Linked DNA regions of Homo sapiens. The protein of the gene in region 1 purifies or fractionates together with the protein of each later gene. This does not show direct contact. Each region holds a gene or a part of one and is shown on either strand. Other genes may lie near its edges.

The links. The genes of interacting proteins can lie anywhere in the genome.
Region 2: the proteins of USP44 (region 1) and MRPS21 purify together in Homo sapiens (affinity purification with mass spectrometry; one large-scale study listed by BioGRID and IntAct). This does not show direct contact.

Annotation. Positions count from the first base shown.
Region 1 is NC_000012.12:95,544,969-95,548,533, reverse strand, and holds part of USP44 (ubiquitin carboxyl-terminal hydrolase 44), read left to right. Parts: exon of another isoform or gene 1-8; intron 9-295; exon of another isoform or gene 296-551; intron 552-3,565.
Region 2 is NC_000001.11:150,306,670-150,309,544, forward strand, and holds the end of MRPS21 (small ribosomal subunit protein bS21m), read left to right. Parts: intron 1-1,378; coding exon 1,379-1,559; 3' UTR 1,560-2,310; downstream 2,311-2,875.

The DNA of each region.
Region 1 (3,565 bases):
AAGTTTCGGTGGGTTCTGCGGCGCTCCGACCCTGTCCCGGCGGCAGCCTCAGAGTGCCCGGAGATGCTGCGGCAAGGCGCAGCGGGCTGGAGGGGGCGAGCTGGGGGAGAACGGGCGCGGGCGAGGGCTTCGGGGACTGGAAGGGGCTTCGCGCTGATCCCGGCACGAGCGTCGTGGAGAGGTGGGCGCGGGGCTGGCACGGGCTGGGCGCTGTGTGGAGCACGCAACGCCCGGGTCCAGCCGCATCCCTCCACCCTCCCGGATTACCGCGAGGTGATGCTCGAAGCCCCGGGGCACTTCGGGAGGGCGGTTGTGGCACTCGGTTGAGGAGGAATGCGCTTCCCGGCGTCTTGCCCGCCTTCTCTCCATCGATCGGTCCCCGCGCTGCCGGCACCTGCTGCCGCTTAAAGCTTGAAAATCAGCTTCCTAAAGCCATTCCCGATGGCCTTCGATGGGAAAGAATGCCATATGGCTGAATTCATTATGGGGGATAAGAAATATGTCAGTGTGCGCGGAGGGGAACCTGTTAATACGTTCAAATTTAAGAGTAGGTAAGACACCATACCCCGCCCCCATGAAAAAAGAAAGTGAACTATATAGTAACTGTTCCAAATGCAAGGTTGAGCTGTTGTTAAATTCTACTGGTAGCTCGCAGTTTTTATACTGGAAGCAAAACCATTTAGGAACCCTTGGGAGATTCACTTTCTCCTCAGACCAGTCCTCAAGTCCCCCACTCCCGCCACCTTTTAAGCTTTAATTGTTGTATCTGGGCAAGTAACGGGGATTGTGAAATTTGCATGGAAATAAGACCTTCAGGTCCTGCACTTGAATTCCTTATCTGTTAAGTAGCTGCCTGTGGGGGTGAAAGTAGGGGTGGTGACTTTTGGGCCTGGAATTCCATTTTGAGTTGTGTTCAAAACGAGCATTTGGTGTAAACAAGGAAAAAGAATGGGCTGTTCACTGTGGTGAAATGCGGAAAGCCAAATAGAAGTTAAGCACATGCTTAGAGAATATTTCATAATCTCAATGAGATTCAATATTCAGTTGAATCTTGAAAGAGATGAAAATTTGTATTCTTGGAACTCTAATCGTTTTGTCCTTAATTTAGCATCTCAGGATATTTTAAAGAGCGTTTAAATGTTTTGGCACATTCAAGTTTTCTCTCCCCATTCTATCTTTTTTCATAGTAGCCATTAGTTTTGCATATGTTCGATGTCAGATTTTTCAGTCCAGTATTTATCACTGTGGGCTATCCAAATTCAAATGTAGAGATATTCTAATATTGAACAGTTAGTCCAGTGCATACAGTTTAGAAAGCTGAAATATTTTGACTACTTTGTGTATCAGTCCTGTTTTTCTTCCCAAATGTTAATTGTTTGAGATTTTTTAGCTTAAAAATTTTTAAGTGATAAATGAACCTGCATTTAGTATAATATACAATGGTACACTTTTTGGAATATTTAAAATGGAAAATCTGTTGAAGATTTGGGTTAGATATTTGAAATAAATTTTCTACCCAGTTGTCTTTCTCCCTTTTCTACAGATTTATCTTTTCTGTACTACAAAGAAAGAAAGCGTCATATCCACTCTACCAAACTTCTCCTCTACACACTTGAATCTATTACAGCGTTTTGGTGCCTAAGAGAATTTTCTGCTCATTGGGTTGTTTGAGGGCAGAGTCTGTGTTTTATATGTGTATCTCTAGTACCCGACTAACTGCTTAACGTGGAGGAAAAACCCCCGTGTAAATTTGTTGAATTGGGGTTTTGAATGGTAGAGGATACAGAAATTTGGCTTCTTGGTAGCCAAAAACAAAACAAAAAAACAAACACGTGCTTTGAAGTCTCTGTCCTTCCTGCAGTGTTAGGCAGAACAAACGTGGGTGCCAGATTCTAATGGAGTTGTCTGGTCCAGGGAGATTAGCGAGAGGCTGGGGCACGGGCTCAGGAGTCTAATCAAGATAGGAAATAAATCGTGTGCCCGAATAATTCTCTGAATTCAGTAACGGGGGACAGTTTTGCTATTAGGCCCAGCCTAAATAGGTGACAAATAACTGAAATACAGGAGGATTCTACAAATAATGGCTTTCTGGCTAAAAGGTGATTGTAAAAGGTGTAACATTCACAGCAATTTTAGACGCCATAAAAAACTTTATTAGGAAGAATTCATTTTTAATGGAGTTTTACACGTCATAGGAAAAAGGTAATTTGTAGTCTAACGATATACTTGCTAGATCAGATCATAGATGTGCTGGAATGACAGAGTCTAGGCATTTTACACACAGAGTATTTGAATTCAATTTTTCAGACCCTTGGTAGGATGCTCAGTATTATTCTGAATGTTTCTCCCATTGTTACGAAGTTAGCTGCGGTAGATTGATGTGTAAATTTGTTGATGTGACACTGATGATAAATGTTTTGGAACAAAATTACTTGTTAAGTAGGGATGGGGGTGAGAAATTCAAATAACCCGGAGGCAGAAACTGCTTTCAGGAGCTTTATCTTACAACGTGTTCAACTAGATTCAATCTCTGCTTCAGGAGAGGCATGTTAGAGACATGAGGAAGGCCCAAGGGAAAAGGGTGTCCTTTATTGTTTAATGAGGAGTTCCAAGCAAGATCAGGGTAATTATAGATTCTAGATCTCTAAAGGAAGAAAGAATAACCAGGGCCTTTCTAGGGATAAAGGAAAGGAAATACATCATGATTGACATGGAGAGGTGCCAAAGCACATAATGGACATAATAGCATACCTAAGAGGGAGTAGGGGAGGGTTTGAGAGCCCATTGTGTTCATTCGCTCAGTAATTTGTTCATTCAAAAATATTGAACCCCTTTCTGTGAACCAAGCACTGTGCTTGACCCTTGGCGTTTCACAAACATTTCTTAAGAGGACAGAATACTATGGTGGTTCCGTGAAGTAAATGGAAAATGGAAAATTGCTTATACGAGTGGGTAAGATTTACCCTAATTACTGCAAACTATGGATAAAGTTGTTTTCATTCTTATCCAAATGCATTGTGGTGGTTAGTAATTCCTAAGGCCTACTTCCTACCGAAATTACCATTTCCTCCTATCTTTTATTATGGAAAATAACAAATCATACAACTTTTAATAGCCTGTAGAGGATCTGTTTGGTTTGTTACTGTTTAAAGAAAAATGTTTTGTTACAAAAATTATCTTCATTAAAATAGTCAACATATTCTCCCTCTGGGAGATTTCAAGTTTTTTTTTTTTCGTTTTTGTTTTTAATGAGATGGTTACTGTGACACTTTTATTTTTAAATGTGTTCTATTTTATGCCCAGTGGTACTTATATTTCTTCTTTCTTTAATAGAGTTAGAATGTATATGTGTTCCTGTAAAATATGAATGCCCATTTCTTATGAAAATCGTTTATATCCCAATTATGAAGAGTTTTAAAAATTAAACATTCACAATAAGATTTGTTAAAAACATCTTAACAAAAGATGTTTGGGAAGTAGTTAGTCATACATGAGAGTAGAAAAGTGTATATTGTTCCAAAGTTCAAAGGCTTTTATGTGCCATGTTAAGAAGTTTAGATTTAGC
Region 2 (2,875 bases), on another chromosome or scaffold:
TTTTTAGTAGAGACAGGGTTTCTCCATGTTGGTCAGGCTGGTCTCAAACTCCTGACCTCAGGTGATCCGCCCACCTCGGCCTCCCACAGTGCTGGAATTACAGGTGTGAGCCACCAGCCTGACAGGATGGAACTTTAAGTAAGAGAATCACCTTAAGAATCACCCCTAGTGATTCTGTTCTTACTGAAAATGGCTCTCCCCAGTTGAGGTCTCTGAAATGCCCCATTAGTTGAGAATCATTGCTGTAGGGAGACATGTTCTTCAGGTACTGTATCATATCCCTCAGGTGTGTTGTGGTAGAGTAGATTTGAGAACATAACTTTGACTATAAACTCTCCAAGAGCAAGGGCCATGTAATTAATTGCTTTTTTATTTCCCCAATTTTTTTTTTTTGAGACAAGAGTCTCACTCTGTTGCCCAGGCTGGAGTGCAGTGGTGCAATCTCAGCTCACTGCAACCTCCACCTCCTAGGTTCAAACACTTCTCCTGCCTGCCTCCTGAGTAGCTGGGAGGGACTATAGGCGCCCGCCATCATGCCCAGCTAATTTTTGTATTTTTAGTAGAGACGGGGTTTCACCATATTGGTCAGGCTGGTCTCGAACTCCCGACCTCAGGTGATCCACCTGCCTCGGCTTCCCGAAGTGCTAGGATTACAGGCATGAGTCACTGTGCCCAGTCCTTTTTTTTTTTTTTTTTTTTTTCCTTTGAGTCAAGGTGTCACTCTGTTGTCCAGGCTGGAATGCAGTGGTAGGATCTCAGCTCACTGCAGCCATGAACTCCCAGGTTCAATTGATCCTCCCACCTCAGCCTCCTGAGTAGAGGGGACTACAGGCATGTACCACCATGCCTGGTTAATGTTTGTATTATTTGCAGAGACGGGGTTTTGCCGTGTTGCCCATGCTGAACAATATTTTTTTTCTTTTTTGAGACAGGGTCTTATTCTGTCACCCAGGCTGGAGTACACTGGTGCAAACACAGCACACTGCAGCCTCAGTCTCCCCTGGGCTCAAGTGATGCTCCCACCTCAGCCTCGTGAGTCGCTAGCACTACAGACACATATTACGAAGCCTGGCTAATTATTTTTATTTTTTGTAGAAACAGGGTTTTGCCATGTTGCCTAGGCTGGTCTCAAACTCCTGGGCTCAATCTGCTCACCTTGGGCTCCCAGGGTGGTGGGATTACAGGCATGAGCCACTGCACCCGGCCCACAGATTCTTATTGAGGCCTTTGTAAGTAGGCAGTTAATGCTCTATTGCCACCATTTCCCACTGTATTTTTTATAAATACCAATTGTTTGGTCAATCGACTTCTATTTATGAAACTGGAAAAGAATAATGATGATCCCAAATGTCTAACCTCATTGCTTGCCTTTATACAGAATCCTCACTATGGATGGGCTCATTGAGGACATTAAGCATCGGCGGTATTATGAGAAGCCATGCTGCCGGCGACAGAGGGAAAGCTATGAAAGGTGCCGGCGGATCTACAACATGGAAATGGCTCGCAAGATCAACTTCTTGATGCGAAAGAATCGGGCAGATCCGTGGCAGGGCTGCTGAGGCCTGTGGGTGGGACACCCAGTGCGAAACCCTCATCCAGTTTTCTCTCCATCTCTTTTCTTTGTACAATCCCATTTCCTATTACCATTCTCTGCAATAAACTCAAATCACATGTCTGCAAGAAGGCCTCCAAATATAGAAACAATCCCATTAGTCAGCAGTGGACCCTGTCTTTTATTAAGTGAAAGAAGAAACTGAGTCTGAAAGTACTCTAGGAGTAGAATGGTATTTGCCAGGGACTGGAGGAGGGGGCAGTGAGGAGTTATTGTTTAATGGGTACAGAGTTTCAGTTTGGGCAGATGAAAAAGTTCAGGAGACGATGGCCTGGCATGGTGGCTCACGCCTGTTATCCCAACACTTTGGGAGGCTGAGGCGGGCGGCTCACTTGAGGCCAGGAGTTTGAGACCAGCTTGGCCAATGTGGTGAAACCCCATCTCTACTAAAAATACAAAAAAAAATTGGCCGGGCGTGGTGGTGCACGCCTGTAATCCCAGATACTTGGGTGGCTGAGGCAGGAGAATTGCTTGAACTGGGGAGGAAGAGGTTGCAGTGAGCCAAGATCATGCCACTGCACTCCAACCTGGGCGACAGAGTGAGACTCCATCTCAAAACAAAAAAACGGAGATGGATGATGAATGGTGATGGCGGTTGCTCAAAAAGTTGAATGTACTTAATGCCACTGAACTATACCCTTAAATGGTCACGATGGTAAATTTTGTGTTTTACTACAATAAAAACTTTTTTGAAAGTCCAGGAGAAGTAAGGAATTTTTTTTTCTTTTTTTTAAGAGGAAGTCTCGCTCTTGTCCCCCAGACTGGAGTGCAATGGTGCAGTCTAGGCTCACTGCAACCTCCGCCTCCTGGGTTCAAGTGATTCTCCTGCCTCAGCCTCCCCAGAAGCTGGGACTACAGGCACCTGCCACCACGCCCAGCTAATTTTTGTATTTTTAGTAGAGACGGGGTTTCACCATGTTGTCCAGGCTGGTCTCGAACTCCTGACCTCAGGTGATCCGCCCACCTCGGCCTCCCAAAGTGCTGGGATTATGGGCATGAGCCACCATACCTGGCTGGTAAATTTTTTTTTTTTTTTTGTAGATGGAGTCTCGCTCTGTTGCCCAGGCTGGAGGGCAGTGGGACAATCTCAGCTCACTGCAAGCTCCGCCGCCTGGGTTCACGCCATTCTCCTGCCTCAGCCTCCCCAGCAGCTGGGACTACAGGCACACGCCGCCACGCCCGGCTAATTTTTGTGTTTTTAGTAGAGATGGGGTTTATCTGTGTTAGCCAGGATAGTCTCGATCTCCTGGTCTCGTGATCCCC